3 linked regions of the Homo sapiens genome follow. The protein of the gene in region 1 purifies or fractionates together with the protein of each later gene. This does not show direct contact. Each region holds a gene or a part of one and is shown on either strand. Other genes may lie near its edges. The genes, in order: FYB1, FER and PYGB.

Region 1 (3,565 bases):
TAAAAATAGCTTGTTGGATTAGAGACTTCCAATCTGATCAGAATTTGAATCACTTGAAAATGTTAGAAAAGGTAAATGCCCTGGCATAATGGGGGGAAAATACCGCATTTCCCACAAGATGGAAAATTAAGGAAAAACCTTATTTATTTCTTTGAAAACAGAAGTATAAAAATATTTGGGAAATTTTTTATTGTACTGTGACTCATAATAAGAATTTCTTTTATCCAAGCAAATAAACATTTTTGGCAAATAAATAGGTACTTATTTCATAACCAGTAATACCAATATTCTCTAAGCATCATATAGTTCCAAACTGTAATCTAAAAAATTAATCTAACTGAAATGATGCAGTGTTGATCATGATTTCCTTTAGTCTTTTAAACTTATGAGTCTTGCTCTTTAATATCTTCAACCTCGTTCAGAGTGACTACCAAAAAGTATATGACTAAGTGCCACATAAAATAATCTTGAGTCTCATTTTAATAGAGAATAAATCTGTCCAGAAATTTTGTTGAATTATATACTAAATAATAAAAGTTAAATATATGATCTTCCATTTAACTCATTTTTTATAAAGTGAGCCAGTTCTATTTTTTTTAATCCTTAACCAGGAGAGTATGAATCACCCACATTTCCAAACTTGGAATACTTAGAGAATATGTTTTTAATAACTATATTTAAATTTGTATTTTTTCCTTTCAGGCTGCATCTATGACAATGACTAGCACTCAACTTTGGTCATTCTGCTGTGTTCATTAGGTGCCAATGTGAAGTCTGGATTTTAATTGGCATGTTATTGGGTATCAAGAAAATTAATGCACAAAACCACTTATTATCATTTGTTATGAAATCCCAATTATCTTTACAAAGTGTTTAAAGTTTGAACATAGAAAATAATCTCTCTGCTTAATTGTTAACTCAGAAGACTACATTAGTGAGATGTAAGAATTATTAAATATTCCATTTCCGCTTTGGCTACAATTATGAAGAAGTTGAAGGTACTTCTTTTAGACCACCAGTAAATAATCCTCCTTCAAAAAATAAAAATAAAAGAAAAAGGAAAATCATTCAGGAAGAAATGACCTGTCTAAAAAAACCTAAGGAAGAATAATAATATAAGAAAGGAAATTTAAAAACATTCCACAAGAAGAAAAATTATTGTTTATACTTCTACTTATGGTTATATCTTATATTCTCTATTCAAGTGACCTGTCTTTTAAAAAGGCAGTGCTGTCTTACCTCTTGCTAGTGGGTTAAATGTTTTCAAAAATTATAGCAGTAGTAGAAGTTTTGTATAAAATTTGTCCTTATTTGTTAATTGTATATAAATGTTAATTATTTGATACGAATGTTATGCATTTAGTATGCACATTGAAGTCTAAACTGTAGAAGAGTCTAAAACAAGTTCTCTTTTTGCAGATTCACATACTAATGGTTTAATTCTGTGCTCTGTTTAAAGTACTATTATAACTAGAGTAGATCTGAATGAGGATAACCCTAAAATCATGAGGAATGGAAGAATGGACCTTGAAACTACCTAGGCTTTTATGCATGGCACCTCTTTATAATGAAGACACTTTTTAAAGTTTTTGTTTTTGTTTCAATTACCGCTAGATTTTTTTTTCTCTTTTTTTAAAATCCATTTTACTGGAAAGTTGGCCAGCAGAGGGAGTAGAAATTATTAAAATTCTAGTGTTTGGATTGGGCCCTTCTCTAACAGTACATACTCATTCCCAAAGCAATCCAAAAACAAAATGTGAACCATTTGGGTTTCAAATGTTAAGAACACTAAATAGCATGATTTAAAAAATGAAAAATGCTAACACCCAAGAAAAGAAGATATTAAGTGCTTTTTAACAACTCCTAGAGTACAAAATGAGTACATCATAATGCTGGCTCTTCTACTAATGAACCATCGAGTGATATTGAATAAATTATTTATCTTCTCAGTTTCCTTATCTGTAAATTACAATATTAGACTAAGTAAGTTTTTCCAACTCTTCACTACCAATTACCTTAGGCTTTTATAATGCTCCGCCTACTTCAGTCCCATGTTTCAGAAGCTTTTGTCTATTTTTTAAACTCATTGATTAAATAATGATTAATGCATTCTCCACATTTTAATATTGCAAAGGCCCATTGGAGTTTCTGAAGTGGCTCCACAGAATTGAAATAATTTCAAATAACTGTAAAGGAACTGAAAATCTTCACAGAGATGAAGTGGGGTTTCCATTAGGTGCTTTGAAATTTGATAACAAATCATCAACTTCCACTGGTCAATATATAGATTTTGGGTGTCTGAGGCCCCAAGATTAGATGCCACTAATCTCCAAAGATTCCCTCCAATTATGAAATATTTTAATGTCTACTTTTAGAGAGCACTAGCCAGTATATGACCATGTGATTAATTTCTTTTCACACTAGATAAAATTACCTGGTTCAAAAGTGGTTTTTGTTTATTAAATTTGGTAATAAATATATATAATACACAGACAGGATAGTTTTTATGCTGAAGTTTTTGGCCAGCTTTAGTTTGAGGACTCCTTGATAAGCTTGCTAAACTTTCAGAGTGCCCTGAGACACTTCCAGCCATCCCTCCTCCTGCCTTCATTGGGGCAGACTTGCATTGCAGTCTGACAGTAATTTTTTTTCTGATTGAGAATTATGTAAATTCAGTACAATGTCAGTTTTTAAAAGTCAAAGTTAGATCAAGAGAATATTTCAGAGTTTTGGTTTACACATCAAGAAACAGACACACATACCTAGGAAAGATTTACACAATAGATAATCATCTTAATGTGAAAGATATTTGAAGTATTAATTTTAATATATTAAATATGATTTCTGTTATAGTCTTCTGTATGGAATTTTGTCACTTAAGATGAGCTGCAAATAAATAATACCTTCAATGGATAACCTTGCCTCCTACTTCATTAAAAAAATTGAGGCTAGCCAGATGCGGTGCCTCACATCTGTAATCCTAGCACTTTGTGTGGCCGAGGAGGGCACATTTCATGAGCCCAGGGGTTCCAGACCATCCTGGGCAACAAGGTAAAACCCTGTCTCTACAATAAATACAAATAATTAGCTGGGTGTGGGGGCACATGCCTGTAGTTTCAGCTACTTAGGAGGCTGTGGTGGGAGGATCACTGGAGCCTGAGAGGTCGAGGCTGCAGTAAGCCATGATTGTGCCACTGTCTCAAAAAAATTTACCCTGTCTCAAAAAAAAGAAATAAATATATTTTTTTAATATTGAGGCCATCAGGCTTCCTCTCTCTTAACTTGATCCTACATCTACAAAACAGTCTTTCTCTGCATCCAACCTTGACTCTAGCTTCAGCCTCAGAAGACGGGATATCTCCTCTTCAAGACCAAACCTTCTACCAAGACTCCTAATACTTTGACTCCTATTTTGTGTCAGAAATTAAGATAACTAAACGCAATTCCTTTCAATTCCCTACAACCTTTGACCTTAACCCATATCCAGACACTGTCCCAGAGAATAAGATGTCATGCCTTAAATTCAAAGCCATAACCTTTGGATCCCATTTCTTCCTGCCTTTTC
Region 2 (2,882 bases), about 70 Mb from region 1:
TGACTCATCTAATCCAAGCTCAGGGATGAGGAGGGGGCTTGGTTTAATGTAAGGGAAGTGTATGTTGCCCAAAATCCATGTAAATAACAGCCGGCAGTTTTAGGAAGGTTACCGATTTGCCAACTGAAGGGTACCTAGAAGTTAAGCGATGGCTCTGTGACCAGCTCAGTCCTGTACAGGACAGGCAAGGATACACATCTGAACTGCTCTAGGGTAGCAGGCTTCAGCCTCTGTTTCCAAACATCTCTCAGCCATCTTTCTCCCGCAAATCCTTGTGTTATGTCAAACAAATCTTGTTATGAAAAGCAAAAAAAAAAAAAAAAAAAAAAAACCCAAAAACCCAAAAGTAAAACACAAAAATCCACGCAAATAGCGAATCCACCCAGATAACTGGGACTTGAGCTCCATTACAGTTTTGATTTCTAAACAGGAAGCAGTGATTGGACTGTAAGCAACACACACCCATTATCATCAGAACTAATAAGCTTAATTACAGAGAAACTGAAAGCTAATAATTTTTATGCACTGTTATATCCCTAGGAGGCCAGTTACCATGGAAATCTTGCCTGCCTTTTCTTCCACTTGGAGCATATTTATATGGAAAAGGAAGAGAAATATAAACATGATGGAAAGATTAAATAAGACAAGGCACAGTTTGCTACAAATATTTTACATTTATTATAGGAATACAATAAAGAGGTTCTGCAGACACATGAGTGGTAACTGGTCTATTGGAAAAGAAAAGACAATTAAAAAATGATCTAAGTTTACAAAAATGATGAATCATGCTTTAAAAATGTAGAAACAATTAAAAAATATCCTACAATGTTAGCCAAAGTTCAAAGTGTATTTCTTTTGAATGTAAAAACTAACAAATAAATAAGTGTTAAATACAGATCTGAGTAAAAATGATAAAAGATAGACAACCAACTGCTTTATATATTTAGCTTTCATCCATTTTTCAGACTTGTTTATAAAGCCAGATAAACCCGCCAAAGCCTTGTTTGTGTTTTACACTGAACTTTCCAGAAGAAGCACCCTATTTCCAGTGTTTATCCACTTCACAAATACATTATCTTAAAACAACAAAAATGATTAAAGGTGCTTTAGCCTAACATTAAATGGACCATAAATCGGCAAACCACAGCAGTGCTTTACTCAAAATGCTGCTTGCAGGTGGAATGTCTTTACCAGAAGTGCCTGAGGGCCCCACTCCTACTCCATCATCTCAAACTCATCTATCAAAAGGAAAAGGAAGGAACTTAGAAAAATCATATTTCCACAACCATTCACTAAGAGAGCCCTAGACTAGAGGGCCACCCACAGTCAAATGAATGGCATGGGCACCATTTGTACATTTTGTCTTGGCTTTCAATTTGCTTGGATTCCTGAAGAAGTCAGGGCTGTTGCTGGAACTTTGACAACTTGATTTTATTCTTCCATTTTTTCATCTGGGCTTTCCCATATGGTTCTATGTCTATGACTTTATACAGTGTTCCAGTCTTTTAGGGCACTTGCCAGAAGAAGCCAGACAAAACCAAGAAAAAACACGAAGAAAACCATAACATAAAGCCAGCAGAATTTGCACCACCACCAACCCCCACTATATTCATTCAGATGCTCAATTGGGCCATCTAACTTAATGCATTTAAATGTAAATTTATGTAAAATCTATAGACGTCTGACTAAAGAAGCTGTTTCAGTGGGAAACCTCAATGCTCTGTAAAGAATGATGAACAGAAATGGCCCATAAATATGCTCCTGGCCACTGGTCCACATTGACAGTCTGATCATGTCACAGGATGCAACTGGGTAGCTGACATTTTGTATAGTAAAGTGAAATGCTCAGCAGGTATAAGAGTTTCATGTCTTTGGACACTTTGGTCATGGATTTGAAATAACTAAGACCCCTCTCGACCAGTTCCCCTTTGTCTGTGATTTTGATTTGATGCTTAGAATCTATATTGGGGATTGAATTTAGAATCATAGGATTATAAAATTTACTTGTTATGGGAAATCAGATGAACCTTGTAGAACCAATCTCTTTGACACTAAAGCCAAAAATAGTGAATTCCATTGGAACATGTACATATTCTGTACACTGCAGGTATGAGAGGTCTAGAATCTAAGGTGGAATTATGACAAGTTATTTTCTGTTGGACTGGTCTTCTGATTGTTACTGAAGCAAAGCAATTCACATTGGCATGGCATGGGATAGACCTCCATAGCATCTTATAGTCTAAATACAAGCAACGTACTTTAATTAAGGAGAAAATATTCAAAGTCCTATCAAGCATGGCTCTGGGCACCTTTCCCTCGGCATTTGCTTCCAACTGTCTGGCATTTAAGAGCAGGCAGGCAAGTTTATTTCTACCAGGTCAAATTATTTGTAAAAGGGAAATTCCTACATAAGAGGGTGTGTTTCTTTCTTTCTTTTGGGTTTAAAAATAAAAGCACGGACCAATGAGGTGGGAAAGACTGCCAGGCTGGTTCTTTTACCTAGGATCTCAGTAATACCAGATTCCAGATTCCCTCTCGGCCTCTAAGGCTCTGAATCCAGGTTAGAGGTCTGAACCCCTCCCCCCGTCCCCAAATGGGGGGCATTTAGTTTTTTGTTTCATAAATACTGTCCAGGCAACTCAAAGAAGACACCAAGGTTATACTATTTGACAACAGCTATATGAAAAATGACTTTGGATTCTGTTTCCTTTCCTGCTCAGTTTTTTGCTGCTCCAGTGTATGAATTGAGATTTATTTTTTAAGGCCCTCCTACATTTATCCTGTGTTGCTCAGAACGCCGACGTTTCCCACTGATATCTGTCCTATACTTTCAAAAGAAGGTATGATCTTCTGGGATCAGATGAATTGCTTAAGTGGTTACA
Region 3 (3,659 bases), on another chromosome or scaffold:
AACATTATACTGAACCTATTGTTTCATAACTCTTAGCACTTTATTTGTGGTACATAGCGAAAGAGTAGAAGTTGGGGTGTTCAGAGGAAGATTTGTCAAGCTTTGCCATGCTTGGCAAATCAGCACGTCAAAACATCTGGCTAACATGGAGAGCTTTGTGCTTGGCAAGAGGTGGCGGTTGGTCATGAAGACATTTAATGGATTCTCTGAAGTGGTGGCAAGGTGGCAAGGAGAGTCCAACCTGAAGCTGCAGAGCCTGGGATTGCGCTGCATGGAGAAGAAAGGGTGTGCGTGATTCCACGCTCCTTTTCATCCTGGCCTTTCCATTCGGTCTGTGCAACTGTGGGCTTGGGCGGATTTCTTTGCCATTATTGGCCTCAGTTTTCTCATCTTTAAAATGAGGGGAATCAAGCTGGTGATGTTTCCGAAGTCTGTTGCCATTCTGAAATGTTAGAGTTAAAATGTTTCTATTTCATATTGAATTGACATTCCATCTCTATCCAGAGAGAATTTGAGGATGCTTATGCTAGATACAGCACAAAAGGTTCACATTAGAAGGCCTCAGAGTGAGGGTTGGGGTGGGACAGTGAGGGTCAGGACACAAAACACAGACCAGGATCCTGGCAGTGAAAGCAGCCCATGCCCAGTTATGAGAGTCACGGGATCCCTTCTATAACATCCTGAAAGGACAGTTGCACGGTTTATTCTGTGGGCCTTTGTGAAGCTGTGTTGTCGATGTGCTGAGCCACTGACCTGCAGCACCCCTGCAGTGGATGTAACAATCAGTTTTTGAGACTCTTCCCATAAGCTCCTGGCATGACTACAACACAGATTAAGGAAAAGCAGCTCTACCTTGGGGCCCACACTGCTGTCCTAAATATTCCTAATGAGATAAACACAATGAAATACGATTAATCTTTTGGTTTGGCTGGACCCAGGAGTTAAAGAAGATGATCTAGAGAAGTGTTTTGCAGACCCTTCTGCTCTGTGATCCCCACTTCTGGGATTTGTTTTAATTAGTCAGTTGTGGTACCAGCCTCCGGAATCCTAACACTCCCAATTTTTCTGATGTATTTCCACTTTTATGTGTGAAGTTGAGCTTGCATCTCCTGGGCAGGCTTCCCTGACAGCAGATCGCTCAAAGTCATTTTCTCTGACCAGTAGCTGATGGTGGGTGCTGTTTTGTGTTGCTGACAGCTAGCCACTTGGAAGGTAGGCCTCAGCTGTCATTTTAGCAGATGGAGAAGCCTACAGTGTGTGCCTTCATTTTCTGCAGAAGACAGCCTGGCCTCTGCCCTTGCAGGCTGTGGTGGCTGGTTTTATGTGTCAACTTGGCTGTTGTGCCTAGATAGTAACGTGGATGTCCCTCTGGGGGGGTCGGGGGGTGGTGTTTCCCACACTGACTGAGCATCTTACAATTCAGTTCCGTTCTGATGCTGTCTACCTAGATGTAGCCTCGGATCCCACAGGCTAAAGGCTCAGTCCCACAAGACTTCTCCACCCCAGATGTCAGTTGCACATCAGGACCTCCCTTCTGACCTCTGACCGACAGCCTCCTCAGGTTTGATGATTTGCCAGAATGGCTCATGAAACTCAGGGAAACACTTCACTTGCGTTTACCAATTACTTACAAGGAATACAACCCAGGAACAGCCAGATAGAAGATATGCAGAGGGCAGGTCTGAGGGAGGGTGCAGGGGCTTCCATTCCCTCTGCAGGTGCCACTGTCCCAGCACCTCCAGGATTCACTGAACTGGAAGGAAGCTCTTCCATCCCCTTCAGTTGGGGATTTTATGGAGGCCGCAGTTACCTAGTGTGATTATTGGCCATTGGTGATGAGCTCAGCCTTTAGCCCCTCTCCCTTCACTGGAGGTTGGGGCTGGCGGGAGGGGTGGGCCTGAAACTTCCAACCCTCTAATTAGAGCTGGTTCCCCTGGCAGCCAGCCTCTGCCCTGAGGGGCTTGCCAAAAGTCACCTTTTGGTGACCACATCAGGCGTGGTTGAAAGGGACTTGTTATGAATAACAAAAGACACTTCTTTCATTTTTATTGCTCTTATCACTTAGGAAATTACAAGGGTGTTAGGAGCACAGGCCAGGAAGAACAAATAAGTATATCTCATTACATCACAGTTTCACAGCCTCCCATGGGGGAAGGCCTTGCAGAACAAACCCTGCCACCAGCTACCTTGCACCAGAGCTGCAGCTTGCCTGGGTCTCCAGCCTGCTGGCCCACCCCACTCTGTAGGTTGTGGCCTTGCACTTCAGAATCACTTGAGCCAATTTCTTAAATCTGTCTCTCTCTACACATACCTTACTGTTCTGTGTCTCTGGAGAACCCTGACTAATCCACAGGGGCCGTGGTGGCTTTATAAAATATGGCCGGGCGTGGTGACTCACACCTGTAATCCCAGCACTTTGGGAGGCTGAGGCAGGTGGATCACCTGAGGTCAAAAGTTCGAGACCAGCCTGACCAATATGGTGAAACCTGGTCTCTATTAAAAATACAAAAATTAGCCGGGCGTGGTGGTGGACATCTGCAGTCCCAGCTATTCGGGAGGCTGAGACAGGAGAATTGCTTGAACCAGGGAGCCAAGACTGCGCCATTGCACTCCAGCCTGGGCAACTCTGCCTAAATAAAATAAAATAAAATAAAATAAAATAAAATAAGGTAACCGACCTCACCTCCACATCTCAGCCATATTTCCTTTTAAACTTTATGTGATTTCAGACCCTTAAAAAGTTGCAAGAATAATACAGAGATTTCTTGTAATTCCTGTTGACGCTTCATCCGGATTCCCCAGATGTTAAACATTGCAACACACTTGTTAGGTCATTTTGTCGCTGTAAGTTCATTTTTCTCCGAATCATTTGAAAGTAAGAACCAGCCTGACCAACAAGGTGAAACCCCTTCTTTACTAAAAATACAAAAATTAGCCAGGCATGGTGGTGGGCGCCTGTAGTCCCAGGTACTTGGGGGACTGAGGCAGGAGGATTGCTTGAACCTGGGAGGAGCAGGTTGCAGTGAGCTGAGATCACGCCACTGCATTCCAGCCTGGGCAACGGAGCGAGACTCTGTCTCAAAAAAAAAAAAAAAAACTGAGTCATAGCCTTGTTGCCCCTTCACCCCCAAAAACGGCAGTGAGTACTCCGGAAAAACAGGGAAGCTCTCCTACACACCCACAGTAGAGCAGTTAAACTCTGGACATTTTAATCAACACAGTGCTGTTGTCTGCAAATCTTTTCAGTGTCACCAGCTGTCCTGCTTAATAAATACAAATAAAATGCAATAATACAATTGTAAAAAATACAAATAAATAATTGGGAGAACTTTAGAAGTCTTTTCAGATTATATCTTTTATTATTATTATTATTAAACGGATCAAAGCTTTAAGCCATTTGGAAATTCAAAGCATCCTAAGACATGCAGCAAATAACCGCAGGAGATAGGAGCTGGCTTTTTCTCACCCATGCAGAATGGCATTCTTAGGATACGGTGAAGGGAAGAGAAGTGAACACAGATTTAGAAAGGTAATTGGACAGTAAGAGAAGTTCGGTTAACAGTGTCTTCAACAGTACCTTGAGTAGGAATGACATGTAATTTTAGGTATAGGTAAGTGGCATTTCTCGGCCTACAAACAGTTAAAATGAAAGATTAAAG

Evidence for each region.
Region 2: the proteins of FYB1 (region 1) and FER purify together in Homo sapiens (pull-down; one study listed by IntAct). This does not show direct contact.
Region 3: the proteins of FYB1 (region 1) and PYGB purify together in Homo sapiens (affinity purification with mass spectrometry; one large-scale study listed by BioGRID and IntAct). This does not show direct contact.

Annotation. Positions count from the first base shown.
Region 1 is NC_000005.10:39,104,603-39,108,167, reverse strand, and holds the end of FYB1 (FYN-binding protein 1), read left to right. Parts: intron 1-702; coding exon 703-725; 3' UTR 726-2,916; downstream 2,917-3,565. UniProt on the Homo sapiens protein: Acts as an adapter protein of the FYN and LCP2 signaling cascades in T-cells. May play a role in linking T-cell signaling to remodeling of the actin cytoskeleton. Modulates the expression of IL2. Involved in platelet activation.
Region 2 is NC_000005.10:109,194,614-109,197,495, reverse strand, and holds the end of FER (tyrosine-protein kinase Fer), read right to left. Parts: 3' UTR 655-2,882; downstream 1-654. UniProt on the Homo sapiens protein: Tyrosine-protein kinase that acts downstream of cell surface receptors for growth factors and plays a role in the regulation of the actin cytoskeleton, microtubule assembly, lamellipodia formation, cell adhesion, cell migration and chemotaxis.
Region 3 is NC_000020.11:25,250,992-25,254,650, forward strand, and holds part of PYGB (glycogen phosphorylase, brain form), read left to right. Parts: intron 1-3,659. UniProt on the Homo sapiens protein: Glycogen phosphorylase that regulates glycogen mobilization. Phosphorylase is an important allosteric enzyme in carbohydrate metabolism. Enzymes from different sources differ in their regulatory mechanisms and in their natural substrates.